Homo sapiens: one gene and its partner. The protein of the gene in region 1 interacts with the protein of each later gene in a biochemical or structural test. Each region holds a gene or a part of one and is shown in the gene's direction. Other genes may lie near its edges. The genes, in order: PELO and SRPX.

Region 1 (16,514 bases):
TTTTCTTTTTGAGATTATTGGTTAATAATCTCAATTACTCTTGCCTCATTTCATAGACATCCACTTTCCAAATTCTTAATCAGTTCAGTCTCTAATCTTTCAGTGCAGCCATCCCCAACCGTTTTGGCAGAGAGACCGGTTTCATAGAAGGCATTTTTTCCACAGACCAGGGGTAGGGGAAACGGTTTCAAGATGATTCAAACACATTACATTCATTGTGCACTTTATTCCCATTATAATTATGTTATAATATATAATGAAGTAATTATAAAACTCACCATAATGTAGAATCAGTGGGAGCCCTCAGCCTGTTTTCCTGCAACTAGACGTTTTCATCTGGGGATGATGGGAGACAGTGACAGATCATCAGGCATTAGATTCTCATAAGAAGCGTGTGCAGTTCACAATAAGGTTCATGCTCCTACTCATGCTTCCAAACCCTTAAAGAGATCTGATCAAATCAAGTCTCATTTAAAATAGAAAAGTATGTAGTATAAAGTCTAGAGCTGAAACATTTGTCATCAAGTGTCTCATATCAATAACTAGTTTGTGACTCTGGGCAAGTTTCTGTCTTCTCTAAATCTTTACTCAATGACATGTCTTTCTGTCAGTCAGAATAAAATTGGTTAAGAAAATAACCGGCTTGACATTTATTTGTATTTGGGTTTATTGAAGTTCAGAAAATAAGCACTGATTCTAAAATTAATTCTCTAACCATAGTTATCTCTCAGTCTCTACATTTGTATTGACTAGACATATAAAAGATTCATAAATATGTAAACATGTAAACATAAAATTTGTAACTTGTGAAAATTAATTGTAACAATATCACTGTTAGTGATGGTTATCACCAATAATTTGTAAGTCCTAGAGGAAATAAAAATATTAAAATTGAAATTATATATTAGCCCCCAGAAGAAAGGTAAATTTCCCAGTAATTGTAAACTTGAACATATTATATGTTAACCCTACTTTATTTCAATATTTTACAATTTCTTTTTGTTTTTTCTAATGAAATATATTGCAATTTGCTAAAATGCCATATATGTATTTGCATATGTATGTATATGCTGTACATATATATGTACACATACATACATACACATGATTGTGTATATATAGACACACTATTATATGTTTTTGAAAACTAAGCAATTTGGAGAAATATCATTGGGAAAGTACTTACTATGATTTTTAAATGTCTACGAATTAATCAATATCTATTGGTTACTGTTCAAAGCACAGAGAGTCATACTGAGAGGCATAAGACATAACTGATACTACCAACAGGGAAACGAGATATACACAGGAAATGAATTCCTTGGCAGGGTATGAGAGCATTGAACACAAACAAAGGAACTTAAGTAAAGTCCAATGGGATTGAACTGTGACCCAACATAATACAATTTTTCTAGAGACTCATTTGTGTAAATTTGAAGACAGAACTGAGAAATGACATTATAAAAACTAAAAACGGGAGAACGAGATTTTTAATGTATTTACTAAATAGTGAATCAGTTCAGATACATAATAGAAAAGGAATTTCTTGATTAATGGGTCAACATACTGAGATCTGATGGCCTTCAACCTCCTTGGGTCTGCCCACCCCATTTTTGACGCTCCTTAAACTTCTTCAACTTTTGTCTTCTCCAGCTTTTAGTTGCTGTGATCCTCTATCTGGCAATGTATCCAGTGAACCCTGTGGGCTTCTTCCTTCCTGTCCCTCGTGTTACCTGTTCTGTGCTACCTGTGTTGCGTTCTGCTCAACGAACCCTCCTTTGGGTGGCACTCTTGTCCTGCCTAGCCCTAGTTCTGCTAGAGATGCTCAATTAGTTGTTGAGTTGAAGAATTGAATTGAACTGTTTCCCTCAGATTCCTCTAAACACAAATCCACTTATTCTTTCTGTCTTTGAAATTCTCAAAACCGCTAAGACACAGCTATTTTGAAAATAGCCAGCATTGGTTGAAGCTAGGGTGAATATGGCTTTTGACTCAGAGAGGTTGTTCAACTCACCAGGAAAGGGAAGCATTGCAAGTTCCTAAGCACTTCTGGACTCTTAATGCATTTTCACTCGTGAAAGTTTCAAGCAAGAAAAAAATAAAGTAGTGCCCCGAGTTCTTTATTAGATTCAATTACCAGCGTACAAACATCCTAATTCACTTAAACAAAATAGCCCACACACATTCCATTTCCAAGGAGGCTGCTTTTCTTCCTCTCTTCCCTTCTCGCTCTCCCTCTTACTGTTTTTCCTCCGTCTTGCTTCTCCTTTTCTCCCCTTATCCTAGTTATCTCAAAGAAAAGCTTATCTGCAACCACCCTTTAACCACGAATTACCATAAACGAAGCAACCCCCCCACCCCCCCATAAGCGAAAGCAAAGCCCTCAGTGGAGCCTGTCGGGGTGGTGGGGACGCCCCCTTTCGTGCAAAACGACTTCACGGTGAATTTCAAGTGTCCGCAGGGGATGGAAGGGGGGATTCCAGATCCTCGCATTTTCACAGACGGCCTAATCCCTCTGCGCAATGGACCCGGGAAAGCTGCCTCCCGTTAAGGGCGCCCAGGCACTGTCAAAGCGCCCTCCCTGCCCGGGCCGGGAGAAGTAAGGGGTGTGAAGGCGGAGCCACTGGGCTGGCAACACCCTCCCGAAGGTCCAGCCCTTACCCGCCTTCCTACCACCTTAGGGGATTTGGCCCGGAGAACGAGATCACCCTCTCAATGAAAGGCAGATGTCCCTTTAAGGTTTGCTTCTACAGCCCGTGGACTTTAGCCTAAACACGGACCCGCGAAGCTGGCTTTATTTGTCCATGTCTCGGACAGAGCCTGGGAAGCTGCCAGTGAGATTTCAGAGACCAAGAGCGCGAAGGGGCGGGCGATGTGGCAATCCGTCTGGGATGTGAAAAGCGTGGAGCGCATTTAGAGGAATTCGACGAAAACACAGGAAATCACTCCTCTCCCGCTCCTGGGCGCCGCTGCCACTGGGGCAGAGGACTGGGAACCGCGGCAGCGGGATAAGTGGCCCAGCCAGAGAGCGCAGCTCCCGCGCCCGGTCCTGCCCTGCGAACCAGCGCGGCCCCCTGGCGCTGAGGCTGCTCCGGCCATGGCCCCTCGGCCCCGCGCCCGCCCAGGGGTCGCTGTCGCCTGCTGCTGGCTCCTCACTGGTGAGCGACTCGCTTTTCTCTGAGCATCTCCTGCTCGCGGGCTTGGGGCTTGGAGCGGGGAGGGAGGTCCTCAGAGCCATGGGCCAGATAGGAAGAGAGAGCGCCCATCCACTTTCGGGCATTCCAGGTACTCAGGCCAGGCTACGGGGCAGGCAGGAGTTTCGCGTTCTGGTTTTGATATGAATTAGTTTTCGTGTCTCTCCAAAGTCCTTCACCCTAGGAGTAGGAGTGAGGCAGCACTGAAAACCTTAGAAGGTAGAATTCACTTTTAAAATTAAAGTTGTTTTTACAATACACATTGTATATTAGGACTTTGCTGAATATTTCCTCCCCTCCACCCTTTTTTATGGCATGGGATGGGAGGGTGATGCTTATAGGGCGCCTGATACATATGCAAAATTCCTACCCTCGGGTTGTTCCAGAGTGGACATTATTGAATTTTCTTGCTGTCTACTATTTAGGCTTTTTTCCCATGCAGAACAAGAAAAGGCAGGGATGCAAGACGAAACTGCCACTTGTTCCAAAATGATGTTTCTATGTCAGCACCCAAGAGGAGGGATATTTTGAAACGTAGAAAGGAATGGTGAACATTTTCTCTGTAAATATCACAGGGCAGTCTACTTTTAAGATGCAAAATATAGTATTGTTATTTGTACATAAATGTGTATTTTTAAGGAGGGGACTTAAAAACATAGTGGAAATGCAAAGTTGTATCCAATTTAGAAAAAGCTTGAAATATAGCATTTTGTAAGATTTTCCCAATAATGAACTCATGGTCAGATCTTTTTTACCAGTTACTGATTGGGGTGGGGGAAAGTTGAAATGGTGAAAAATGGAAGAAGGTGGGGGGAAAGTGTATCGATAGAATCTCTGTGTGAAAGAAAATCACCTTATTAATGGGTTAATTAACAGCTGGCTTTAACATATCATTGATATTCAATTGTTCAGTGTTTTTACTGCTGGCATGGTTATTAGTACTAGTTAATTTAGCATTTTTACCACTAAAAACAGGGTAGAGCCAGCTAGTTTAGACCTGCCTTAGATGGCCAAGCATTGTTAAGTTTTATGAAGATGATTTAGAAGTTGATTATCAGCAAGCAGAGCTTTTTTCAGAAGGGAGGTAATGTAAAGAGAGTTAATAATTAGCTACTGGCTTTTCATCCAAACATTTCCCACTACTCAGGAAATGTCCAATAATCCAAACAGTGGTAACTGCTGAACAGCATTATAGCCGGTGAGTGGTTTAACTTACCAGCTACTGCCACTACTTTTTACACATATTTGACCTATGATTCTTCTCCAACTCAAATTTTTTTAGATTGTATTTTGTTGTTTTTGTGCAAAATCTGAATACAGTAGTTTACTATCCAAGTTGTACTTTTTCATTCTACCAAATAAGCAGTCTCTAGAGTAGAAATGATGAAATGAGGTTTGCGTATCCTCTAAAAAGACAAGAGTGAAACTTGAAGTAACAGAGAAGTTTAACAAGTTACAATTTCATATATATGTTGGTGAAATATACATTGGTGAATCCAGGAAGAGACTTAAAATATTTAGAAACCTTGTGTGCACTATATTTATGCCCATTTCGCAACACATGAGGGATCTGAAATTGGACTGCTTTCCCATCAGTCATTATATTCTGTAGGCTCTTCTTTAGCAATCTCTTTCAGATTTGGAAACTTCTCATCAATTCAGAGTCCGTTTGTAACCTGGGGACTCATCACCATACTTATCCATGCACACTACTGTAGAGCTTATCTTTCTGTCTTCAATTTGAACCCAACTTCCAGTCTACCCTCCTAATACATCATTTTTACTATATCTGTTTTTAGTCAAAAATCTTTGGTGGTTCTTTGTTGCCTTTAAGATAAAATCCAAAATTCTCAACTGACTGCCCTAATCCAACACCCTCTCTCTATCTCCTACTACTCCTATGTCAGTTTCTTATTGCTGTTGTAACAACTTGCCATAGATCACCAGCTTAAAACAACATAAATTTACTATTGTACAGTTCTGTAGGTCAGAAGTATCACTGGGCTAGAATCAAGATGTCACCAGGGCTGCATTTCTTCTGGAGGTTCTAGGGGAAAATCAGTTTCCCTGTTTTCACCAGCCTCTGGCCACCACCTGCATTCTTGGCCTGTGGCCCCTTTCTCCATCTTCAACCGAGCAGGGTAGAATCTTCAGATCTTCCCCCATGACTCTGCTTTATCATCACATCTCCTTCTCAGACTCTGACCCTACTACCTTCCTAAGGATCCTTGTAATTACAATGTGCCTACCAGAATAATCTCCTCATCTCAAGATCTTTAATTTAATTACATCTTCCAAGTCCCTTTTACCATCTAAGATAACATATTCACAGGTTCCAGGCATTAGGTCATGGATATCTTTGGGAGACCATTATTCTGCCTACCACAACCCATAAGCATAAACTGTCCATTATAGCCAATCACTTTTCTTTACTTTCTCCATAATCCTCATGTTCATTTTGCCACTGAAGATATGACCTTGTTTTATACATCGAGAAAAGAATTCCACCTTTCCATCCTACCACCCTCTGACATCTAAATAAACTCTCTACAGCCTTCCAAACTGGGTTTACATCAGAACAACAAGCCACCAGCATCCCAATAAACTTCCTATTTGATTTAGACTGTCTTATATTAGCTCCTTACAACGTTTACTAAAATGATTCATCAAAAAGATGTCCTTATGTCCAAAGGATTGTTATTTTATGTATGTCAAAGTCTCAGCATAAACTGATGTCACATATAAAGGATTTAACTGAAGACAGTTTCATAAAGTGACAGTTTAGAGAGGCCTTAAAGGAACAAGAAAAGAGGGTGGAGCATCTAGCGCAAGCAACAGTAGGGAAAAAAGAACCTGAAGCAAGGTGAGAAGAAAAACCATGACCATTCCTAGGCCTGAGGAGGTGGCAGTGTTAGTTTGATTATGAACTCTAGTTATGGGAGGGTGGCCATTAGACTGGAGTTGTGGTCATAAAAAGGAATGCAGCTAGTGACAAAATTGAAGCCCAGCAGAGAAGGAGTAAGGAAAATAAATATACCTCCTTTCCTCCCACCCTCTGATGTCTTGCTCAGCCTTCCCATTGGCCATCCCCAAATGGCAAGATCCAACCTTCCAGAGAACAAAGGGCAAGACAATCAATAACAGAATAGCTAGCACAACTTAACCCCGAAATGTATTATGTGCAAGGCACTGTGCCAAGGGCTTTGCATGTATTATTTCATTTTAATCTAAAAAATTAAGTTTACTAATTGATCACAAGCAGTCACAGATTTCTTTGTTCTTTTTTCACTCCCTCAGCTTGTTGATTAGCCTTGAAAAAAAGAAAAGAAAAAATTAAAACTTTATAACTATTATCAATATTTTAGAGATGAGGAAATCAAAATATAGTATTAAGAAGTTAATTTCATTTGTCCAAAGTTGAAGAACTAATGACAAATCTACTCAATTCATATCTCTGACCTCAAATTAAATGCTCTAAAATAATATGCTATATTGGCTGCCTAAAGATAAGTTCATTCTCTCTTGCTCACTCCTCTAAATGTGAAATCCAAACATAGTTGTCTAAAATACTTGGATAAAGACCTAATTAATGATACAAGTCAATCTTTTATTTCCATGATTTTTAGGTGTACAGCATTAAGTGTAACTCAAGTAAGACTACTATTTCTCGTTATTAAGAATATAAATATAGAATTAGCCCTAATTAAACTATATGTCTCTCTTCCCTAGAAACATTTTGGTTGGCCTAGAAGCAAGGGTCTTCTTTTCACAGGCAAGATTTCCTATTCAAAATGAAATCCAGTGAGGAGATGGGAGATGGCTGAATATGGGGAGGAAGTCAGCCACTTATTCAAAACAAAGAATGACTCCCAATGGCAGACAATGTATTGTCAGGAATTGCTGAAGATGGTGAAAATTGTCTTACTCATTGTGATGTTTGTAAAGGCAGCAATGAATTCACGGGATTTTTGTTTGTTTAGTAAACAGGCAATGAGAGTAACCATGAGACACATATATATGCTATACTAGTTTAACTATTTCTCTTCCCTCCTGTCATAACACTTACCCAGCTATTTTGAAGCATGAGCTCTTGGGCCACAGCTTATCACTGATGTTCTGACTTCAGTAGATAGATGCTCCTCTAACATGTTCCTCCACTTCCAACCCAATAAACTTCCCACTAGATTTAGAACTTGCTGAATTTCCACATCTTAACATATTTTAGTAGAATAAAGTAGCTCATGTTTAAAATATATTTAGAAAAGTTGGGGACTAAAATGCTATTCTTTACCTACACTTCTCTTCTGTTGTGTGAAATACAAAATAGTGTACTCAAATTCATGTTAAGAAACTGAGATGAAAGATATTTTGAAACTGTTGCCACAGTGCTAAAGTCAGAATAGATTGCCTATTCAGAGCAGTCTGTGACTGGAGAATTGTATTCGCCCTCAAAGCAAGTACAGTAGAGTATCAAGAGATGCAAATGACTGCATATATTTCTATCTTCAAGATTATTGAGCTTCTTTCAGCTCCTTTATTATGCCAGCTACTCTAAAGTCTCCTTGGGGACTTTGCATAAGTAGTTACTCCCACTGCTACTGATCTCAATCCCTGAATAAACGTCATTTCCAAGAGATACCCTGAAGTAGATTGGACCCTACCTTAGGACATGTGTATCCCAGCACCTTTGCTTCTATTATATAATGCACCACGGTATTATAATTAACTATCTAATTGCCTGTCTTTCCAGCTTGCTGTATGCTCTGTGAGGGTAGGATCTTTAACCATAACACCTAGAAATAATAGGCACTTTTTAATTGAATGAATCGCAAAAGAATTGACTATTGACAAACTCAGAAAATACTTAAGGGATCAGATTGTCCCTTTATTATATACCTCTGCCTTATTTTATTATACCTCTGCCTGAAATATTTCTGTCTATCCAAATTTATAAATAATGGAATGGAAGACACCATCAGTTGAAAGATGCACCATTATTTTATGTACCACTAAAAAAGACAAGCCACTCCCAATCCAATTATAATTGCTAGATTGTTAGATAGTTCCTAGTTTCAGAGATGTCAAAATTGGGAAAATGTGCGTCTGAAAATTACAATCAATAATATACAGTGTATGGTACTTTTTACCATGGTACTTTTCTATTTGTTTGGACACTTAAAAATTGTGTCATAAGATTTTGAAGAGGCTAGTATGTGAACCCCATCTAGATACAGAGATATAACATTGTTCCTCTCAGTTCTCTTCAAGTGCCAAGTTTATATCTGATTTAGGGGATAATTGCTCCTCTGGCACCAACAGCCTCACCAGATCCCAAAAACAGAGCTCCCTCCAAATGCTCTATCTTTAGAAGAGAGCTTCAGGAGAAAGGTGACAATAAAGTAATCATATAATGTTCCAGTTGCACAGGATTAATGACTCTAGCTTTGGCAAACTCTTAACTTTTTGTCATGTTGGTGGTAAGCTCCAGGGTTGTGTATATAGGAAGAAGACTAATTTTAATCAAAACTTTCCTATGATTTAAAAGGAAGATAAAAAAGTCAACTAAGTTTTAAAAGGAAATTAAAATGCATATGCTGGTTGGTGTTAGGAATTCACTTTATGTGTTAAAAAAAATCAATTTTATCCAAACAGGAGATCCCTATTAACAAGATAAGTAAGAGATCTGAAATGAGAAATCATTGTAATTCAAATATGCAAAGGAGTGGATACACATACTCTTTTTGTATGAATTATATGAGATCTCCTAAAATAAATGCAAATTCTTAAATTTAAATATAGCACCTAAGTCACTTTAAAACATCAATAGTTAAGATGGTTTATATATTTTGTTACAAATCATATATCCTTACTACAAATTAAATGTACTTTCAAAATTATTTTATTAATTAGACTTTTATTTTACCAAATACTAAAGTCTAGAAATACATGGGTACTGGCCAATCCTTAAAAATATCTGTGTAACACATTTTACTTATAATATTTTTGGTGAAATGATCTTATGCCGTATAAGAATACATGCAAATAGAAATACACACACACACACACACACACACACACACACACACTTCTGTTCATAGGATTTTGTTTATTTGGTAGGAGGTTTTGTATTATTTTGTGACAACTGCAAGTAAGCACTTTCCATCATGAGAAATTTAGATAGTGAGTGAGTACAAGTTCCTTAAAAAAAAAAACAAATAAAACAAACAAAAAAAACCACTTTCCCTTTTACCCTTTTGTCTATATTAGCTAACTAATCCTCCCAGTCATCCACTTAGCTTTGCTGGTGGAGGTCACATGGGAACCTTTGCACAATCTGAGGTTTGCACATTCTCTCTAAATAAACAATTGCGTTTATCACTAGATATTCATAATTGGAGCTCTGGCTTCTTATTTTGTAAAGTTCACTTTCCAAACCATGTATAATAAAACTAATTGCCATTATGTGTTATTCTAAAATATTTTAAGAACTTTTCCTGGGGAAGATGTATTTTAAATTACCATTTTCTTACCTAAGCACGGCTATCTCAAATATTGAAATAGGCTTATACAAACTTACCTTAAGAGTAACCTTCTTTTTAAGTTTTTAGTAACATTATAAAACAGAATGTGATTTCCTAATTTTAGAATGTCAGTTACAGACAAGTTAAAAACTCTGAATTAAAGAAAAATTAATAACCATTAATTTTTGCATACTAAAAATATGAGTATGTGCCACTTGTTATGCTGTGTTCCAGGAGAACAAAGACAAATAAAAGGTAGTAAGTCTCTGCCTTTACTGGTGGAAGAGGTAGTAGACATGGAAAGACACAATGGTGGGAGAGGCTCCCAAGGTGCTTTATAAGGAATAACAAAAAGATTAGGTTTGTGTTGCAGGAAAGTAAGCCTTCCAAAATAAAATACAAGATGAAAACAAGAAAATTTATACAGCCCCGACTGTTTAAGGGTCACAAGCTAAGCAGAGGGTATTAAAACAAGATTTCCATCTTTCAGGAGCCCATAATTCCATTTCATGTCATACAAACCATTTCTTTTATATTATTATAATAGGAAAGATAGTAATTCAACTCACCAATGAGGTCCATGAACCATTTTATTCAGTAGAGCTGAATAACATAAATAACATAAATAAATGTACCCCAAAGATTATCCATCAGTCAACTCTACCAAACCAGTTATTTTTCCAAGGCTGAATAATTATGATCATGTTAAAATGAGCTCTTGTCCCTTGTTTTGTCTGATCCAGTTTTCTAGCTTCAAGCCAGGCATTTTTAGAGCTCTATAATTTATTAATATCAAGTATCATAATATCACTAGGACCTCATAAGGATGGTCAAATGAGAGAGCAGGACAAATAATCTTATTTATCATTTAGAATGAAAAATAATTAGCTTTATTGCGGTCTGGGACTTATTTCAAGTTGGTAGAATCCATCCAGGAAAGACCATATTTGAGGTCTGCCAATTCTTGGTCCACAAACAAGAAACTTTGAATCAGTCTTTCACCTCTGAAATGGGTCTTAGAAAAATCAGATTTGAAAGATAGCACGCAAAATTGAAAACAAATATGTTAGGATGAGATTATAGGTGTTGTTTAAACACTTAAAAAATATTACTGCAGCATAATTTTTAGTTAGAAATTTAATTATTGAATTCAATTCCCTCAATTCTTCAGTGAAATAAATTGGGTTCCAGAGAGACTGAGTACTGCCAAAAGTTACAGTAAAAACAATTGAAGAGTAAGAGCTACAATCCAGGATGCTTGACTTCTAGCCCAGTTCTCTTCTTGAGACACTGGAAGTGTCTCAAGAGCAACAAATTAAAAACTTTTGGAGGTAACAATACTTTTTTCCCCTTCTGGAGAGATTAATATAAATAAGACATTGTAGGGAAAATAGATATAATTAAAGTTACTGATATAAAGATTTATACTGATATAAAGTTACTGATATAAAGTTTTCTATTTTAAACAGCCAATACATAAGTATAAAATTAGTATTTAAAGCAAAAGAGCTAAAAGCCCTGGTATTTTTCTCAATACTTTGCTCATTTGGAAAAAAATGAAAATAAATATATAACTACAGCAGTTTCTGAACTACCATTATTAAGTGAAATACAGTCAATAACAATATAAGTAAGTGCCTTAAGAAATGTCTTGAAATGTCTGTAATAATGTTAAAATAGCTGCCATACTTTACATTTGACTCACCTAGCTTATCATTAATATATGAGTGCCTACTATGTGCAAAGGACCTTTAAAAGGACAAAGGAGTATAAAGATAAATCCTTCCAGAGTTCAACAAAAAAGATACATGTTTAAATTAACATGGATTCAAGTTTACATGGTTTCAAGTTTGAGATAACATTTAAGCTGGACTTTAAAGATAGGCAGCACTAAAGGAAGCAGGGATGAAAGGAAGTGACATTTTAAACAGAGAAGTTAGTATGAGTTAAGGTAGCAAACGAGAAAGTTCCTAGCATATGTAGGGAACAAAGGTTACTTTCAAGGTGGAATATAGGGTGCCCTGAGGGGAAAAGTGGGAAGTAAATTTGTAAGGCCAGTGCAAATTGGGATTGTAGACGTTAATTCATAGGGAATGGGAATCCAAAATGAATCAAAATAAAAATATAATGATTGGTCTAGAAATACTAAGCCATAAACAAAATCTGGGTGAAAACATCTAATAGTCAACTACAGGCTTAAATTACTAAGGAAAAAAAAAAGTTCCCAACTATTGCAGTTGTTTCACATACAACAGTAATTCTATGAAAGATTTTATAGTATACTGAATTATGGAGGCACACTGATATTTTTTAAAATGGCCCAAAGTGGTTTGCCTCATAACTTAAAAAAAAATTTTTTTAACCATGGATTTAAGAGTCAATAAGGGTTTTTCACAGGTTTCTAATGTACAGATAAATATATGTATATTTTTCTAAAGTAGAACATTAGATCTTTCTCTAAGAGTATGATGATGACCTAGGCTGGACAGAAGGAAAAAAAAAAACTATGTAGAAGAGAAAAGTATAATAATTTTAAGAGGTGATAAAAGAGCAGGAAAGGGACTAGTGCCTTTCAAATCCTCTAGGTTGGTTCCCAAGCTGTGAGTTTTTGTTTAGCTGGTAAAGGTGACAGTTGAGGGGAAGTGACAGTGGATAATAGCACATAATTTGCAGTGAAGGAGATGATTACAAACATTCATAATATAGGATGGTGGTAGTAGAAAGAGAGGGTATGGAGTTATGCAGGCCTGAATTTCAATGCTAGTCATGTGATCTTGAAAACATTTCTTAACTTCCCCATAGTTGATTTTCTTCTATAAAATTAGGATAACAAATATTTACCTTACAGGGGAGAATTAGAGCATAGGAAAGAACTTGATAAACATTCAATACGTGATAGCTCTTCAATAAAAACCTTTTGTTAAGATCCCACTGTGTGCTTACCACTGTGATTCTGTGGCTTTTAATCTTTGGCAGACTATGGGAAAGATAAATTGTACTTAGAAAGATGATCAAGGAGCACTTCAAAGCCCCAGTTCAAAATTATCTCCTCATTCTCTCTCTCTTTCTCTCTCACAAATACACACACAAGCACACTTTCACCCTACCAATTAGGAATTTTAAGTTAACAAGATACTTTTTTTAAAATACAGTGTCCTTTGGATAGGCAAATCACCTTCACACTTGAGTGTGATTAGTTCTTTGCTTAGTGAAAAGTTGCTGGGTTCTCCTGGAATTGGAAGAAGGCAATGTGAATTAGGAACTTCTTGAGGGTACTCAGTATGATAGGAAGGTGGGAAGAAGGAGGAAGTAAGGGGAGACATAGAGAGCGAGAAACAAAGAGAAAAGAGGCCACAAATATTAATAAGTAGTGGTTCTTATTTGGACTTTCCCCTTGGAGGGGACCTTTCCGTCCCCTGATAATCTCTTAGGAAGATAATGACACTTAAGTTTAAATTGTGAAGCCTGTCAGTTGAGAAAAATGTTGAGACAAGTCTCAATCATTTTAGGACGTTTATTTGCCAAAATTAAGGACGTGCGCGGGGAAGACAGGTCTATGCCTTTCTGGGAAGATGATTTTGAGGGCTCCAAATTTAAAGGGGAAAGGGTGGGATACTGAGAAATACAGTTTTCATGTGAGAGGGTAGCAGGGGGAAAATAGTCATTCATGCCTCTGTCTGGCTTAGTCAATCTGAATCTGCATTTTTACGTAAGATAACATAGACAAATGGGGCAGGGGAACAATCAGATATGCATTTGTGTCAGGAGGGCAGAGGGGTGACTGTACCTGAAAACAGAAGCTATCTATTTACATTGCCATGGTAAATTTTCATAGAAACACTTTATGGTAAAGATCTTGGCGCTCACTGAGAATTTCCTTGTGGGCAAAATATGAGCGAGGTGTGTAGCTTTTCATCTGGTAGCCATCTCATTTAAAAACCAAGAGGCAAGGCAGTTTTGCGTGACCCAGTTCCCAGCTTAACTTTTCCCTTTGGCTTAATGAGTTTGGGGATCCGAGATTTATTTTCCTTCCACACGCCTATGCCAAACTCAGATTCCTTCCTTTCATCCCTGTTTCATCTGTTCAGGCTGGTTAGTTCCCCTTTCCAATCCACACAGAGAAAGACAGAAAAGACAGTGAGAAGCTATGTGTGCAGGACTTCTCTGCCCTCCACTCCATCTAAGCTCTCAAGAAACTTTTAGATTCTTTTGTTTTTTCTATTCATCGGTCTCTTAAAGAGGCAATCCCACTTCTCCATTTCCACTTCCTAATAAAGAATGCTAAGTAACTTAAGGATTTTCTTTAAATTATGTAGCTATTCAATCAGGGTCAGTCCTAGTTAATAGTTTTTCCCCACTTCCCATAGCCTCGGCTTTTAGCTTAGCTTTGGCAGTGAAGATCTGGCCCTAAGCTCTTGCGACCCAACCCCCAACCTAAACATTTCACAGGCTACTGGGCTGCGGAAAGCTGAGGCTGCCAACTTTGGAGCCTAGGATTCCCAGGACATCAGGTCAAGCAACTGAGAGGTCCACCCAGGGGTAAATTCCACACATAGTTTCTTCTCTCTTGGGACCAGCGCTTTAACATCTGGGTGAATCAGATCGTGCAGACACGGTAACTAGGCGCAGAAAACAGCTGGACACGTTGCTGGGAGCCCAGACAGAACGTGACCAGTAGTTCTCAGAAACCGCTTCTAAATACCAGCTCCAACAGGCTTGTAGCGTCCGAGTGCGGATAAGGCAAGAGCAAAAACGAGCATAGTTTGGGCCGTTGGGGCCAAATCTGCACTTCTGAGAGCTACTTTTACTGCTAAGCTTTGAAATTGGATTTACCCAGAGGGAAGCGTTGCAGTGGCAGCCGCAGGCAGGTAAAACTAGTATTTGCACTCACACACTCCCCGGATTCTTCACAGACAGGGATGGAAGAGAAAACTTAGGAAGTTGAAGTTTGGCATTAAAATAAAGGACTCGCCACCACTCTGTGCACCTTCTTGAGGGAGTTCATTCGTCCGGAGCGCCTCACAGCTTAGTGCGCCTGCGCACGCGCGAACTGCGGCCCCGCCTCTCCTTTGGGGACGGGAGACGTGCGTCGGGTCGCGGGACGGGGGCTGCGCATGCGCCTTCATTTCGTCAGCCCGCTGTTGCGTGCTGCCAGCGGGAACTGTGTAGGGGTAGATTTTCGCTGCAGTGTTCCCCGAGCCTGTTAGACGCAGCGCGCCGGGAGACTGAGAGAGGAAAGGATAGAGGAAGTGCTGCCCTAGGCTGCATGAGTCGAAGCAAGCGTGTTTCCTTCCCGCCAGGCAAGTGCCCTTAGAAACCGGGCCCCGCCCCCTTCCTGGCCTGCATTCCCATCCCCTCTCCCGGGGCGGAGGTGAGGACCTCCTTGGTTCCTTTGGTTCTGTCAGTGAGCCCCTTCCTTGGCCATGAAGCTCGTGAGGAAGAACATCGAGAAGGACAATGCGGGCCAGGTGACCCTGGTCCCCGAGGAGCCTGAGGACATGTGGCACACTTACAACCTCGTGCAGGTGGGCGACAGCCTGCGCGCCTCCACCATCCGCAAGGTACAGACAGAGTCCTCCACGGGCAGCGTGGGCAGCAACCGGGTCCGCACTACCCTCACTCTCTGCGTGGAGGCCATCGACTTCGACTCTCAAGCCTGCCAGCTGCGGGTTAAGGGGACCAACATCCAAGAGAATGAGTATGTCAAGATGGGGGCTTACCACACCATCGAGCTGGAGCCCAACCGCCAGTTCACCCTGGCCAAGAAGCAGTGGGATAGTGTGGTACTGGAGCGCATCGAGCAGGCCTGTGACCCAGCCTGGAGCGCTGATGTGGCGGCTGTGGTCATGCAGGAAGGCCTCGCCCATATCTGCTTAGTCACTCCCAGCATGACCCTCACTCGGGCCAAGGTGGAGGTGAACATCCCTAGGAAAAGGAAAGGCAATTGCTCTCAGCATGACCGGGCCTTGGAGCGGTTCTATGAACAGGTGGTCCAGGCTATCCAGCGCCACATACACTTTGATGTTGTAAAGTGCATCCTGGTGGCCAGCCCAGGATTTGTGAGGGAGCAGTTCTGCGACTACCTGTTTCAACAAGCAGTGAAGACCGACAACAAACTGCTCCTGGAAAACCGGTCCAAATTTCTTCAGGTAAAACAATCTTACCCAGGGATAATTAAGAATGGGCAGAGGGATTGGTATAAACTACTCCTAAAGTTTTAGAACTGGGAAAAATAAGAAGAGAAAGTCTTTACTTAGCTGGGATTTTCATGAGATAATGAAATAAAAAGAGAATGTTAAATGTCTAGCAAATTTATGGAGTAAACTTCGCTGAAACATATGAAGCCTTACTAGCGCTTTTGGCTTTAAGCCTTTGTGAGCTGATTAATGGGTGTTCTAGGAGATTATTTTGCCTAACTTTTGTAATTGTGATTCTAGGTACATGCCTCCTCCGGACACAAGTACTCCCTGAAAGAGGCCCTTTGTGACCCTACTGTGGCTAGCCGCCTTTCAGACACTAAAGCTGCTGGGGAAGTCAAAGCCTTGGATGACTTCTATAAAATGTTACAGCATGAACCGGATCGAGCTTTCTATGGACTCAAGCAGGTGGAGAAGGCCAATGAAGCCATGGCAATTGACACATTGCTCATCAGCGATGAGCTCTTCAGGCATCAGGATGTAGCCACACGGAGCCGGTATGTGAGGCTGGTGGACAGTGTGAAAGAGAATGCAGGCACCGTTAGGATATTCTCTAGTCTTCACGTTTCTGGGGAACAGCTCAGCCAGTTGACTGGGGTAGC
Region 2 (16,514 bases), on another chromosome or scaffold:
CCTAGCAACAGAGTGAGACTCCGTCTCAAAAAAAAAAAAAAAAAAAGAAATTTTACTTGAGCCATACGTTCATGAGAGGTTCTAAATAAGCACACAGATAGTCTATTTCAGCCTTCATTTCCTACAAATGCTGTATATAGAAGCAACTTTGTGTTTCTTTTGTCAAGATAAGACATTTGATTTACCTCCTTATCTTGCATTTAAATTTATTTCACAAGATGGACCTGTTTTCAGGTACCATAAACACCCAGTTCTACTGGGTTTTCTTTGACTGCTGGGGAAACTGTGGACTGTGTCTGATGCACACATTTTATTGCATCTCCCCTGGCATGAGATTCATATACATTGGCATCTTCTCAGAGTGAAGTTGACTCTCTCTGTTTCCCTATTCCAGAATTTCACTTGGCATATGGTGATTCCAAAACAGTTTGAGGCTCATTTTGCTTGGTTTTTGGCAATCTCAGCTCAGCCGGTTTCACTCTGAGAGATCTCCTGTTTGTTCCTTCATGAATGGCCACAGAAGCTTTTGCTCTTGGCTCTGCATTCTAATAGCACCTCCTGCATGGTCTGTGGCAAAGGAATGCTTTGAAATATGCGTCCATACTATGTGGCTTTTCTTGCTGCAGTTTCTGTTCTTTTTTATTGTAGGATCGGGAGACTCACCACTAGAAGACGATGAAGTCGGGTATTCACACCCTAGATATAAAGGTGAATGCTTTGCTTATGTGCTAATGAGGACCTGCTGGTGCCAGGAGAACTTTCCTTTTTGCCTTGTGAAACAGATTGTAATAAAGTGACCAGACAACACATTTAAGTTCTAATTATCTATCAAGGAAAAAAAAATATATATATATACTCCCTTTTTTAAAAAAGGAAATAAAGCAAAATGCATTGGAAATCTCTGAAATGCTGTCTTTCAGCATCCCAATGGTCATTTTATTCTCATAAGTTTCTTTACTGTCCTCACTTCTGCAAAGGCAGCTGTAGCTGATGAAAGTGAAAATCAAGCCTAATTCATACATTACAGCCAGAATCATCCAGAGTAAACCACCTAAGGTCAAATCTGGACCAAGTGCTGATAATGTACTAAGATGAATGGGGAAGGAGAAAACTTGATTTTCATAAGCTCATTTCATCGTGCTCTTTCTGAGCCCAGCATGGCTTCTGAAACGGTATGTTAAAGTATGTTGCTCAAATGAAACTTAATGATAAAGAACTCCATCTCTACATATTCCCAGCAATCCACTCCCCAGCACGTATAAAAAGCCTAAACAAGAACCTTCTGTCCAGACTCAGGTAAGTATGTCCACAAATATTTCTACTGGTGAAACATTTCTCTGAAGCTTAGGGAAACCTGGGAGAAATGAAGGTAAATTTAGAGATGCTTTCTCTCTGAATCTAGTTCCTCTTACAGTGGAGGAAGAATTTGAAAAAAAAAAAAAAATGGTTAACAAAGTTTCACTGCGGCATTTTGCCCTGGAAATTTGTCCTAATTCCTGGGATGAGGACATGGCCCTTGTTTGTTGTGATGTGTCTCAGATACAGGAGAATCAGGGTAGGACTGGACAACTTTTGACTGGAGATGTCCTTCAGTTGTTTTCTACACAAGTGAACAATATTTCCAATATAATGACTGGTGCCTGGTGCTTATGTGCAGGTGTGCTTCCCATCACATACCACATTTTTTTGTGAGATCTGAATGCAAATACTCATTCCTACCTATAGTTTCTATCTCCATAGCCTCAGGAATTAACCAATCAAGCAAAGCACAAATACGTTAATCAGATGCTTGGGGTAAGGAAAGGTTCTAATTCGCAAAACTTCTTAACTATTTATGGGTTTAGATTTTTTTTTCTTTGAGTCCCTTGTTGAAAAATCTTCCTAAAACACATGCATGCACAGATGACCCTTCACATCTACAGCAGGGGTTGCCTAGTGCCCTCAGGTCCTTGTTCTTCACATCCATCTTCACCTCACAGCATTGCAAATGTGACAGGTAGACCAGATGGCCAAAATGTGTGCTTGCCCTAGAACTTACCCTGAATGTTTAAGAATAAATTTTCTTAGGGCATTGTTTCTATTGTCAGTTAAATTGCTTACTGGTAGCAATCATTTCAGTATGTATAAGTATATCAAAGCATCATGTTGTGCGCTTCATACAATAAAATTTAAGTTTTATTTATTTTTATTATTATTTTTTGAGATGGAGTCTCACCCTGTCACCCAGGCTGTAGTGCAGTGGCGTGATCTTGGCTCACTGTAACATCCGCCTCCCAGGTTCAAGCGATTCTCCTATCTTAGCCTCCCAGGTAGCTGGGACTACAGGCACACGCCACCACACCCAGCTAATGTTGCATTTTTAGTACAGACAGGGGTTTCACTATGTTGGCCAGGCTGGTCTCGAACTCCTAACCTCAGGTGATCCACCCACCTTGGCCTCCCAAAGTGCTGGGATTACAGGCGTGAGCCACTGCACCTGGCCAAGTTTTTTTAATTTTAAAAGCTAGAGACAAGCCATTATTAAGTGAGGGTTTAGTTTTAGATCCTGAGGCCCCTGCACAATGTCCAGCACAGAGTAAGTGTTTTTGAATTAAAGTAAAATAAGAAAGAAAATTAAATGTAACCAACATTTACGGTGCTCCTGGTATGTGGCAAGCATGGCTTTTGATTCTTTTGCTTGGAATACCATCATATATTCATATTAATTGAGTGAGTTTGTGATGTATGAGTATGCAGGTCATATATATACATACATTAGTTCCCCCTTATCTGCGGTTTCACTTTCCAAGGTTCCATTTACCTTCAGTCAACCGCAGCCCCAAAATATTAGATATTTTGAGAGAGAGACAGTACATTCACCTAACTTTCATTACAGTATATTGTTATAATTGTTCTATATTATTATTAGTTGTTGTTAATCTTTTATCATGCCTAATTTATAAATTAAACTTCATCATAGGTATGTTTGTGTAAGAAACAAACAGTATATATAGCGTTAGGTACTATCCAAGGCTTCAGGCATCCAATATCCCCCGTGGGCAAAGGGGGAGTACTGTATATCACAAATATATGTAGTACATACAGATTATATTAAAACCCTTAGAGGAAGGAAAATTTATTCAAGGAAGTTCTTTAGGCCTTGTGTGAGCTCCTACACGTTTATATCCACATGGTTAAATTTAATCAGCTCTAGGTTAAGCCTTTAGGACATCACCTTTACCTAGAAAGTCCAGGGAAGATTACTTGAGTCTTGAGTTTAGGGCTCACTTGCAGCTGTCTGCAAAACATGATATGACGAAAGTATTAGCCAGACCAGGGACGGTGGTGCGTGCCTGTAGTTCCAGCTACTTGGGAAGCTGAGACAGGAGGATCACTTGAGCCTAGGAGGCCGAGACTGCAGTGAGCAATGATCATGCCACTACACTCCAGCCTGGGTGACAGAGTGAGACCCTGTTTCTAAAAAAGAAAAAAAAAAGAGAAAGTATTAGCTGAAGGAAATGTGAAGGCAAAACTAAAACAGTGGTCTATGCATAAGACGTGGCCAGAACTGTTGGTTTTTGTAACTGAGAAGCAGTTGGAGGCATATCCTCAGAAGAGAATTCCTGGGAAAGTAAAACAGGGTCTGTCCTCCTTCCTGGCCACATGATGGCGGTCTTACCTCACTCACTGACAGCTCAGGTGCTGGGTTGGAGTGATGAGCCAGGCAGTTGCAGGGAAGTGGCTCCTATTCATGGCATTGAGAGCCCGGCAGGCTTTAGGGAACTCCTCACTGTTCCCCATCAATTGTGGGACAATGGGGCAGTGGCTGCTGTAGGAACTTATCCACCAAGGAGCTAGTGTTGCCCTTATATTTTATGGATCTCAAAGAGAACATTTCAAAAGCACAGCAGGGAGGTTCTGATTTATTCATTTCATCCCAGCTGTGCTTTGGGCAACTATGAGACCAAAATCAAAACACCTGCAACTTTGCCATCTGGGGAGGGTGTCACCCTGTTACGTAAATGGGGCATAACTGGGGACACTTCTCTATGGAGAGCAATTGTTCTGTGACTTTAAGCGAAATTTATATCTTGTTACAAACACCTGGAAATTGTAGCATCATTTAGATTAATGCCAGTATTACAACATTTTAGAGAGAATGTGCATACGGCTCAGACGAAATCCAAATTAACCAATTATTGAATCCCTACCGCTATGTATGACATCAGTTGCCCTTGAAAGAATTATCTAAAAAATAAAAATAAAAAATCTTATGTATCTAGTTAAGGGAAATACTAAAAAGAACAAGCATTTATTGAACATATATGCTAGGTACTGTGCTAGATGCTTGATATGCAATTTTTATTTCGTCCTTGTAACAGCACTATGGCATAAGTATAGATATTGACTCAGAGAGGTTAGCTAACTTGTCTAAGATCACACAGTCAGTTATAGAGGAACTCAGATTCATGTTCAGATATATCTGACACTTAGTCCCATGATCATAACCTCCCTACCCGGAGACACCTAAGAAAACATGGGGCACTAATTGAAGGTCCAAAATTTGGAATGTAGCCAGCCTGGGACAGTAAGAGTAAGGGGACACATTTTCTGAAAGTGTCATTTCATATTTATCTCCTCTTTTGTTTCTGCTACTTGTAGATACCCCGTGGTGCTCCCCCATCAAGGTGAAGTATGGGGATGTGTACTGCAGGGCCCCTCAAGGAGGATACTACAAAACAGCCCTGGGAACCAGGTGCGACATTCGCTGCCAGAAGGGCTACGAGCTGCATGGCTCTTCCCTACTGATCTGCCAGTCAAACAAACGATGGTCTGACAAGGTCATCTGCAAACGTGAGTAGGCCAGCTCTGTGTTGGGTCCTCAGGGATGACCAGAGCCAAAGTTCTTTTGCTCTGAGATTGAGGATTTTCACTGAATATTGATGAGAAAAATTCTCCTTATGATCAGGGGGACACCAGGGGGATTCTAAGATATGGTGGAAGTGAGTTGGCTCCTCTCAGAGAGAATGATATGATCAGCTGTTTGAGAAAAGGGGAGAGAAGATCATTGTTCAGAAAATGAGTTACATTTGTTCAGTTAGTGCTGGATCCTGAAGAGGTGTTGGGGATTTAGAAACAAATAAGACGCACATGGGTCCTGCCATGAAGAGGCTTTAGTAAGGCAGAGGTGTCAACTGGGAGATAAGTACAAGAAGGGTACAAAGTCAGGGACATATGGTAGCAGATTAAAGAAGAGTTCTCCTGGCTGGGCGCAGTGGCTCATGCCTGTAATCCCAGCACTTTGGGAGGCCGAGGCGGGTGGGTTGCCTGAGCTCAGGAGTTCGACACCAGCCTGAGCAACACGGTGAAACCCCATCTCTACTAAAATACAAAAAATTAGCTGGGTGTGGCAGCGTGCATCTGTAATCCCAGCTACTCAGGAGGCTGAGGCAGGAGAATTGCTAGAACCCGGGAGGCGGAGGTTGTAGTGAGCCGAGATTGTGCCACTGCACTCCAACCTGGGTGACAGAGCAAGACTCCATCTCTTAAAAAAAAAGAAAAAAAAAGTGTTCTCCCAAGGAGTGGGGCTTAGGGAGGCAGGAAAGAGTCACAGAAGAAGTGATGCTTATTTATGAAAGTGAGTGTGCCTCAAGGGAGAAGCTTAGAGGAGCAGCATTTCAGGGGCTGGCTTTTAGCTTCATGACAAGTCATACCTCATTTGGAAAATTGCAAGTGGTACAGCATTGTTGAAGCACATTTTAGATGTCTTTGGTATTCAAAACAGCCACCACTTTTTGAGCGCTTATGGTTTGCCAAGAATTTCACATACATTTGATTTTTACAGTAACACTATCAATATGGGTGCCATTATGTTAACTTCATTGTCAGGGAAACTGAGGTTTCAAGGCTGCAGCCATGTCATCGAGACTATGCAGACTCTGCAACTGGGTGACTGTAGTGGACAATCTGCTCTACCCAGATCTCCTCGATGCCTTTTACTAGTTGTATGTATCCAGTACCCAGCTTCTGAGTACTTTGCTCTTAAAGACTTGGAACTTCAACCTTATTCAGAAGACTGCTCCTTCAGAGGACTGATCCCACTCGCTCTCTCTCTCTCTCACTCTCTCACTCTCGTTCTCTTTTCACAAGAGAAAGCATCTCCTGTGAGCAGCCTGTAGCTGCCCAATGACTGACTGATAAAGAATTATGAAAGCCCAGCTTCCTTGCCTGGGGGCAGGACAGAATGAGCTGTCATTCACACTCCAGAGCTTCCCTATGGGATCAGGCTGCTGCTGACTTTGCCTGAGATCTCATCTTGCCTGGATTTCTCCCCTTCCCTGTTCTGCTTTCCTCACCCCCTCACTAGTCTCCCTGGGAGCACTTTCTTACTAAACCTCATGCACATAAATCCGTATCTCAGAATCTGCTTCTGGGGAGCTCAACCTAAGATAGTGGCTTAGCTGGGTTGCCAACCCAAGCCAGTGTGACAGGAAACTTTGTGTCTTCTGTGTGACATAAAACCATCCATTGTTTCTTAAATTCCATTTGTTTTATTTATTTATACAAAGTCGTGTTCTTGTTGCCCAGGCTGGAGCGCAATGGCGCAATCTCAGCTCGCCGCAACCTCTGCCTCCTGGGTTCAAGCGATCCTCCTGCCGTAGCCTCCCGAGTAGCTGGGATTACAGGCATGCGCCACCACGCCTGGCTAATTTTGTACTTTTAGTAGAGATGGGGTTTCTCCATGTTGGTCAGGCTGGTCTCGAACTCCCGAAGTCAGGTGATCCACCTGCCTCGACCTCCCAAAGTGCTGGGATTACAGGAGTGAGCCACTGCGCCTGGCCTTCTTATATTTAAATTAACTTTTCACCTCATGCTTTCAGAGTTTCTAGACTCTGAAATGAAACTCTATAGACAAAAACTAAGAAATGCTGAATATCTGATTTTCTCATTTTCAGAAAAGCGATGTCCTACCCTTGCCATGCCAGCAAATGGAGGGTTTAAGTGTGTAGATGGTGCCTACTTTAACTCCCGGTGTGAGTATTATTGTTCACCAGGATACACGTTGAAAGGGGAGCGGACCGTCACATGTATGGACAACAAGGCCTGGAGCGGCCGGCCAGCCTCCTGTGTGGGTAAGAAAATGCCACAGCCCTTAGGAGGCACTTGCTTTGGGAGGAGCAGGGGGTGTTCACATCGTGGATTGTAAAGGGAGCATCACTATTCCTCCTGTAAGGCCTAAGCATGCAACTTTGCTCTCAGTAGCATCACTGGTTCTCTGGCTCAGCCCTAGATCTAACCTCAGTGTCTATCCTGGAGCTGACTTCGTAGCTGATGGCTTCCATCTGACTTTTGTCTTTTTCTTGGTTTGCTATTGAGGCAACTACAGGCTGGCAGAGATGTGGCATACTCCTGCTGATTTTAGTTCGGGGGCCTGAGCAAAGTTATTGACACTATAGGGACAGTCCAGTAGAGAACATCTATGTGTCTTTCAGCCCCAATGTAGCTTCTTTGTCATTGACTCTGGTGGTCAGCAAGCACTCAATTTGTTCAGCTGGAAGGGATTTGGATATTTTGCCTTACTCTGGGTTTGTTGGGCAGTGAGTGGTTCCCATGGTGTGGTCCTGGGAGCAGAAGCAGCAGTAGCATCTCCTGGTCTAAGAATGCAAATTTTTACCAACCCACCCCCACCACCTGCTGAGTCAGAAACTTTAGGGGTCAGGCACAGCATTTTGTTTTTTAATGAGCATTCCAGGGATTGTGAGGCACTCAAATAGAGAGCTACTGATCTAAGGCACTGCTTCTCAAACTTTACTGTGCAGCGAAGTCCTCTAGGGACCTTGGGAAAAATGCAGATTTAAATTCAGCAGGTCTGCGGTGGGTCCTAGGATTCTGCTAAACGATGCTTTAGGGCAAAGTTTCTGAACCTCAGCATGATGGACATTTGGGGCCAAATAATTCTTTGTTGTGGAGCCCTGTTTTTTTTGTTTGCAGGATGTTTAGCAGCATCCTTGGATTTTATTCACTAAGTGCCAGTAACACTGCCCACAGGGGGCACCTCACAGATGTTGCTTTCAATATCCTCCCTGTGATTAGCTATGTGCATAGCTCTTCAAAACAAACCAAAAAGAAAATTGAATCTACTCCCTCATATTGGAAGGGGCAGAGGTGATGGTGGGAGGAGAGAAGCTCAAAAATCTTTCTGCTAAGCAAGCTTTGGCAGAGTACTCTAGGGATCATACTGTTTAAATTTCCAGATTGTGTGCAACAATGGAAAGAAAATGCTGATTGTTCTCAAAAACCAACAGCATGTCTTAAGCTGGACCAGATGCGCCTGGAACCTTCCCAGAGGAAGAGAGAATGAACCCCAAATTCAGGAGATTCATATTACAGTTTGTCAGAACAAGGTTCAGGCATATTTGGGAGAAGGAGGATTGTACATGCAATTAGTTAGGGATGACAAAAAGGGGTACAGCGATCCACAAGAGAGCCTAGAGCTCCCAGGAAAAAAGAGAGAAATGGGCAAAGCAAGCAGGCAATTCTTTCTTTGATTTTCGCGACAGACAAGCTGAGGTTTGTCCCCAGTGAATTTTACTCCAGGGGTATTATTTACTTTTTTGGCTTTAAATGTATTAAAATAGTTTAATAAATTTGTTTTTGTGTTGACAGGGGTAGGGGGTCCTTGAGCGTAACTCAGAACTTCAACCTATTTTAGGAGGTGACACATAGTGGCTAAGTAGTTCCCAGATTTCCACACAACCTTCAACAGTCTTGGCCAGAGCTGTACTGAGTGGTGAGAAAGTTGTCCCAGTTCTCTTCTAGACTGTGAGGGAAGAGAGAAGACTGGGCTTACTTTGGACTCTGAGGTGGTCAGTTCTGTGGTCTGGCTAATTTGAAGGTGCCACAAGTTAAAATTAATTCTCTTACACAGACCATACTCTGGCAATGAGCTGAAATTCATAGTTATTTCAGAAACAGATATAGATAAAAATAAGTCAATGTAGGAGGAAAAAAAATACTGCAAATTGCAGGAGGGTAAAAAGTCTTTGAAGAGCCACAACCTCCATTGATCTGGAAGAAAATAAACCTTAGAATGTAACCACTATTGTTTTCGGGGGATATTTTTCTTTCTTTCCATTTTTAGTTATTTTTGGTTATGTTGGCATTTAGATAGAACAATGAACAGTTGGAATCACAACAAGTCCTCATGTAAAGACCAGATTTTGAGTAGACACATGATCTCTCCTTTAGACCAACACTTCTTCCTAGGCCAAAACAGGAAGAAAACAAATTAAAGATACTTTAAAAACCACGGACAATGAAAAACCAGCAAAGGTCTTTTGACATTCAGAGAGTATCCATTTAATTACTTTAACAAAAGACAATGTACAAACTTTCCTTTTTGCCCTGTGGAACGGATTGTAATAAAGTGACCAGACAACACATTTAAGTTCTAATTATCTATCAAGGAAAAAATATTTTTAAATAAATATATTTTATTTTTTGCTCACTTATTTTTTGTTTTCTACAGAGTAGAATAGGTGGAGATTTATTAACACAAATGAAATTCTGGAATAAAACATTTTGGAGATGTAATATATGGAAATTGATGGCATACGTTTCTTGTGTCCCAGCTGTCTCACAGCTGGTTTACCCAATGACCCATAGGAATGGGATCATTGCATTATTGCTGGGCTGCATTGCATTATTCAGTTGATGCAAACATCAGTAGGGCTAAGAATGAATGTATCCATGCATTGTTGCAAATGATGTTAAATTGTGCTAAATTCTTCCTGGGTTGACAAATACACATTCTTTTGCAAACTTTCAGAGGCTAGTTTCAGTTAAAACAACTTGATTGACTGAGATACTGATTCACTTTTTCCCTTACATGATTTGTTAGTACAAACAGAACAGGTCAACTTTTAGTGGCTCTCTCTAATATAAATGTATCACCAATGAATTTTTATTTGGGCTTCTTTCTTGTGAAGATGTTGACTTTTAGAGATGAGGTCTCATTATGTTGCCCAGGCTGGCCTCTTGCTATGTCGTCCAGGCTGGTCTTGAACTCCCAGGCTTAAGTGATCCTCCCACATCAGCCTCCTGAGTAGCTGGGGCTACAGGCATGAGCCACCACACCCGGCTATGATCATGACTTTTAAATGTGGATTTCATTGCCTCCCTTCTTGCCTCTTTTGTCTGTTTTGGAAAGTTCTCTGGATTTTTGTATGGTGCCAAACAGAGGAAACCACTTCCCAGAGCCATCCACAGAGATTACGCTCTGGCTGGGGGAAGCAAACAACTGGATGAGTTTTCAATGGCCAGGTTTGTTCTGCATTTGGCAGTCACTCACTTCCTATGCCCCCTTGAAAAGAACTCTTCCTTTCTCTATCACCAAACTCAAACTATTTTATATTTGCATCAGTGATCTGTTGCTGCACAATAGACCACACAAAACTTAGTGGCTCCAAACAACTATGTTATTGCTCAAAGATTCTATGGGTTGGAAAGTTGGGCAGAGCTCTGTGGGGACAGCTCATCTCTGCTGTATGTGGTAATGGTTGAGGTGACCAAGTGGAGCTGGAGGATTCAAGATGGCTTCACTCACAGGTCTGGTACCTCAGTTGGGAAAAGTTGTACTGACTGGGGTCTGGCTGAGTCTCTTTCTCTCTCTCTCTCTCATTTATAATTTCTCATCCTGATTACATGGCCTCTCCAGTCAATTGGACTTCTTTAGATGGCAGCTGGCTTTTAACATAGTGAAAGCAGAAGGCACCAGATTCTTTGAGGGCCTAGGTCTGGAACTGGCACAGGGTCACTTCCCTTGCATTTTATTGTTATCTGTTGGGCAAGACTTTGTCCTTTTGAGCTTCTTCCTTATTTCCACTACCTACCGGGTTAGATGTGTCAAGGATTTCCAAGTAAATAGTTCAGCTTCAGCTGGGTGCTGGTGGCTCACACCTGTAATCCCAGCACTTTGGGAGGCTAAGACAGGCAGATTTCTTGAGCCCAGGAGTTCGAGACCAGCCTGGGCAACATGGCAAAATCCTGTCTCTACAAAAATAAATAAATAAATGAATAAATAAAATCAGCTAGGCATGGTGGTGCATGCCTGTAGTCCCAGCTACTTGGGAGGCTGAGGTGGGAGGATCACATGAGTCTGGGAAGTCAAGGCTGCAGTGAGCCGATATTGTGCCACTGCACTCCAGCCTGGGTGACAGAGTGAGAGCCTGTCTCGAAAAAAAAGTTCAGCTTCTTAGATAAATAGTAGTTGATACAATGCAATATATTTGTATCTCATATTTTATATGCACAGAGATAACTAGAGCACAGAGAAGGGAGACAGTTTGTCAGATGTCTCCAATGAATGTGGCAGAGAGCAAAGGCCAGAATTTTCACTGAAGGTTTCAAGATTTTTATATAATTGCAGGCATCCTAATTCAACAGGGGATAGTAATTATGTTTCTATAGTAACTTTGTTCCTTTCATTCATGGAAATGTATAACTTATAAAATGCTATCGGGGCCAAGTCTGGGTAATAACAGGCTTAGGTCTCTGGAGCATCAGCTGAAGGGCAGACCAGCTTGTCTCACCAGCCGAGAGAGAAGGCAGCTGCTTGAGGATGTGTCAGGATCAAGTCCTGCAGAGGCTCTTCAAGGGTTCATGGGGAAGCTATGACAGACCATCACAAAACAGTATGTGTGCAAAGGTTGGCGGAAAACACTAGGTCAGCAGCAGGCAGATACACAAAAGGGTTTGGTTTATTAAAATAGCTTTAAAATATGTAATGGCATTTAAAAATCCCAGACCACAAAGAAATTCCAAAAGAGAGGAAATGCTTCTTCCCAGTCTATAAATGAGGATGCTAATAACACTGCTTAGTCTAATGGGTGGTTGTGCAAATTCAGTAAAATAATATAGGGAGGGTACTTAGCATGGGGTGGGCATGTAGGAAGGAGTCCTCCAATATTAGTTATTATTTGTAATGATTTATTTCTTCTTGTTTCTTCTTTGGAAGAGCACTGTTTCTGAAAAGCTAGGCCAGTTCAGCTGATCATTGTTAGCTAGAGATAAGCTGGCTTTGGGAAACTCTGAGACTCTTCACCCAGATAACCTATCTTGGAGCCTGTGTGCTTACACTGTTAGTACATCTTGATACAGAAAACAAACAACAATGTATCATCCAGACATTTAGTTTACCTGACAGAGACTAAGTTGCTTTTCACTCTGACCATGCTGCACCAAGAAAATATGGTAACACAATGTAATTTTACATTGAAATCTGTATGCTAATAAATATACTTTCTATAATGTAATTGCCAGCTATATTTGACCAGCAGGGGGCAGTCATTATATACTTGTCTTTCTGTGAAATGTTCATCTGAATTATAAAAGTTTGTCTTCTATCACCTATCATAGTAAAAAATTAAATGTTTTTAAAAACGTAACAGCTGAGTATAGACATCTTGAATGCATTTAAAGCATCTTCCATTTCATCATAGTATTTGTATACTTTATTTTATCAATTCTGAGAAGCGTATTATTTCTACCTTTTAATATCCCTGAAATAGGGATGCATTTCACAATTAGGAGTGACTTAGATTCAACAAAATATGGTGGTTATTCAATTTAGGATTGGTGCATTAAGGCTGTTAAGTTCACACTCCACTGAAGCACGACATAGAATGAAAATGAATTTGGATAGCTGAAGGCAAAATTGTTTAATAAGTTATTCGTAACTTCTTACCCTGAATAAAATGAGAAATTATTAGACAAGACACAGGAGAAAGTATATAAAGAATTTTACTTGGTGCATTTAGTCTCTCAAAGACATCTGTCATTCAGAATCAAAAGGACATTTAACTTTCATTAAGGCAGTAATAGCACTTAATACTTATCAGTTGATATGTAAAGTAACATGAAGCTGAATGTCCTTAATTTGCTATGCCTTCTTTAAATACATTCTCTACCTGTTCAGAAATATTAAGTAGAATTTGCAGAAATGTGAACTTCCTCTTGTGATTTCACTTCAGCTATAAGATGAAATACAACCCAGTGTAGAGTTGACATCTCATTTACTTTGAGCCCTCATTAACCACCCATCCTTGTTATCACTATCGAGGCAGAACTCCTATTACCAGGTAGAGAAACTACTTGAAGAAATTTGGGAGGCTTTTGGAGGTCCAGAGCCACAGTAAAACTGCTGTCCCAGAACATAAAACCATAAGTGTAGTTCAGTAGCAGTTCAAGGGGAGAGTGGACCCAGACAGACCATTGCCTATTTTAAGATATTAAGCAATATGTTGATAATAGATAGCAGGAAGAGAGAGAGCTTGTTCCAGTGGCAAGTGCTCCGACTTAGATTGTAATTCACAGTGCCATTATCTACATGTGTGGTCTTAAATAAATCATTTAAGTTCTTTGAGCCTCAGTTTGCACATCTGTAAAATGAGAGAGTTGGGCGGCTCCTCTACACCTCCATAGCATTCACTTTTACCTTGCCTGGGGCAATTGCCATTTTCTACCTCATGTTATATTTCATGTGTGATAATGTAATCCCTCCAATACATGGCAAATTCTCTGAAATGTCAGGAGCACATGATTCTCTTGCCTTTGTGCACCCCCAACCCCAGCAGTTGGAATGAAGCCTTGGATAAGATTGGTACTCATGAAAAATTTGTTGCCTTGAATTGAATCTGACTAGATGATAGCTAGAATGCCTTTCTGTAATATTCCATGATGCTGTGTTCAAAGCAGGAAGTACTCACTAAAGCCAAATGACTTCTAGTTTCAGCTGGGTAACTGCCATGTGGCCTTCGGTAGGCAGAGTTTGGAAGCATGGGGAGGAAAGGCTGTAACTAATGAATTACCCACAGGACACCTTGCAAGGCCAGTTGATTGCAGGTTTAGCCCTGCAAATGTGAGTATTTAAACAATCTTCAAAACTTAGCAGGAGAGTAAAAGCATTATGAAGGGAGAAAAGGGGAATATATAGGGTGAACAAACTCTTTGAAAATGGAGAATACCCAGAGGCTTTGGTATTTTAAACTGTGGGTGTTGAACCCCAGTTTGACTAGATATTTCTTGATGATGATGAGAATGTTTTGGTTATATTTTCAGATATGGAACCTCCTAGAATCAAGTGCCCAAGTGTGAAGGAACGCATTGCAGAACCCAACAAACTGACAGTCCGGGTGTCCTGGGAGACACCCGAAGGAAGAGACACAGCAGATGGAATTCTTACTGAGTAAGTGAAACTTGGCAGATAAAATGATGCTGTCTCTTTTATGTGAGATGTTTACTACCCAGAGTAGGGGAGTGTATATATGCTGGTCTATTTATGCTTTCAGATGTGGTCCCCCTGGTCACTACCTAACATACTATATATGTCACCTATGTATTTGTTGATTGCCTGTCTCTATTATAATATGTTCACTGCTATGTCCTTAATGCCCAGAACTGTGCCTGGCACATAGTTAGCACTCAGTAAATCCTTACTGAAGGAAAAAGGAGAAATAAGGGGTGGTGAATGATGTGATTATTATGCATTGCATGCCTGTATCAAAACATCTTGGCTGGGTGCGGTGGCTCATGCCTGTAATCCCAGCACTTTGTGAGGACGAGGCAGGCGGATCACTTGAGGTCAGAAGTTTGAGACCAGCCTGGCTAACATGGTGAAACCCCATCTCTACTAAAAATACAAAAATTAGCCAGGCATGGTGGCACACACCTGTAATCCCAGCTACTCAGGAGGCTGAGGCATGAGAATCGCTTGAACCTGTGAGGCTGAGGTTGCAGTGAGCCAAGATTGCACCACCGTGCTCCAGCCTGGGTGACAGAGTGAGACGCCATCTCAAAAAAATTAAAAAAAAAAATCTCATGTACCCCATAAATATATATACCTACCATATACTCACAAAAATTAAAAATAAAAAAAATGTAAAAGAAGGGGTGGTGAGAAGAAGGGAAGGAGGAACAGAAGGGGAAAGAGGAAGCCAGTTGGTTAATTTAAGAATAGAGCCACCCCCATTGCCTGCCCAGGCAGACCCTACTCATGCCCCCAGGCCATTACCTGCACTGGGAAGCCATCTGTGTCTCCCAGGTGGTGCCAAAGGCTGCCGCTCTTGTGCTCTGTGAGTACAGTTTAGTGCAAAACTTTTTCACCCCTTGTTTTTTGGCTGTATTTATCTCTTTCAAAGCTTTTTAATTTATTTTTAAAACTCCCGATCATATCAAACACTTACAGATGCTTATTTAAAAAAAGAGAAGGTATCTTCTGCTTTCTTCCCCACCTCTACCCCATTCTCCTGGACCAATTTCATTCATAGTTTGACATGTATCTGAGTTGCTTTTTGTTGGTGTGTTTGTTTTACCAATCACAATGAGAAGCACTGTTAAGAAGCTTTTAAAAATGGGTGGATCCCTTTGTGAGGGTTAGCTATGTGTTGTTCTAATCTAGCATTTGGGCCTGTACCCCTGCAACTGTTTGGTTGGCCTTCATATTCCCTGGAGACCACTACTTCATGTTAGCACATTCATATCTGTGCCTTAAAGTTTATGGGCATATTAGAGTTCCCCACTGAGTTTTCATCTGTAGATGAAAGGATACCTCTAACTTATCTCCTGGTGATCCATAAAGCAGGAAAAGACTTTCTAGAATCCTATCAACCCAGGCTGTGCATGACAAAACATTTTTACACAATGATTAGCAATAACAGTACAGTTTCTAGTGAGAGGAGACAGGACATTTTGTTCCTACATTCCAATAATCTTCCCCCAGTGCCTCATCTAGCTTAAGTAGTATTACTAGTTATGCTCTCCCATTGTAACTTCTCAAAGATAAAGTTTGACCATTAAAAAATTATTTGCTGTCACATACACATCCCACAAATTCCTTTGGAGAAAATGTAGGCAATCAGAATTGAAAAGTAAGTTGATGTTATCAGGGATTGGGTTTTATTTACCTTTGACTCTTCAGGGTCTAGCACAATGTCTGGCCCAGCCCCAGCACGTAGTAGGTTTTTAGATTTTTGCAGCTCTGACTGCTGTTGAAAAAACCTGTGTGATAAACACAAAACATCAAGCCATCAGATGACTCTATTTGTCTACAAGCTTTGTGAGAATATTCACCTTGTTCTTTTTATGGGTAACTTGCGTAATATGGTTAGGAGTGTTACATTTTATTTGATTTTTTTATTTTTTGAGACAGATTCTCACTCTGTTGCCCAGGCTGGAGTGCAGTGGCACGATCTTGGCTCACAGCAACCTCCGCCTCCCAGGTTCAAGTGATTCTCCTGACTCAGTCTCCTGAGTAGCTGGGATTACAGGTGTGCACCACCATGCCCTGCTAATTTTTGTATTTTTAGTAGAGATGGGTTTTTGCCATGTTGGCCAGGCTGGTCTTGCACTCCTGACCTCAGGTGATCTGCCTGCCTCAGCCTCCAAAAGTGCTGGGATTACATTCATGAGCCACTGCACCCGGCAGGATTGTTACATTTTAAAACAGCATCTCAGTATTCTCCTGTCCCTTTGTTCAG

What was found.
Region 2: the proteins of PELO (region 1) and SRPX form a complex in vitro, tested with the Homo sapiens proteins (one study listed by BioGRID).

Annotation. Positions count from the first base shown.
Region 1 is NC_000005.10:52,785,257-52,801,770, forward strand, and holds the start of PELO (protein pelota homolog), read left to right. Parts: upstream 1-2,659; 5' UTR 2,660-3,097; coding exon of another isoform or gene 3,098-3,158; intron 3,159-14,548; exon of another isoform or gene 14,549-14,628; 5' UTR 14,629-15,138; coding exon 15,139-15,864; intron 15,865-16,152; coding exon 16,153-16,514. Other genes in the region: ITGA1 (integrin alpha-1 precursor), read left to right, coding at 3,098-3,158. UniProt on the Homo sapiens protein: Component of the Pelota-HBS1L complex, a complex that recognizes stalled ribosomes and triggers the No-Go Decay (NGD) pathway.
Region 2 is NC_000023.11:38,162,479-38,178,992, reverse strand, and holds part of SRPX (sushi repeat-containing protein SRPX isoform 1 precursor), read left to right. Parts: intron 1-648; coding exon 649-708; intron 709-4,641; coding exon 4,642-4,833; intron 4,834-6,935; coding exon 6,936-7,112; intron 7,113-14,097; coding exon 14,098-14,224; intron 14,225-16,514. UniProt on the Homo sapiens protein: May be involved in phagocytosis during disk shedding, cell adhesion to cells other than the pigment epithelium or signal transduction.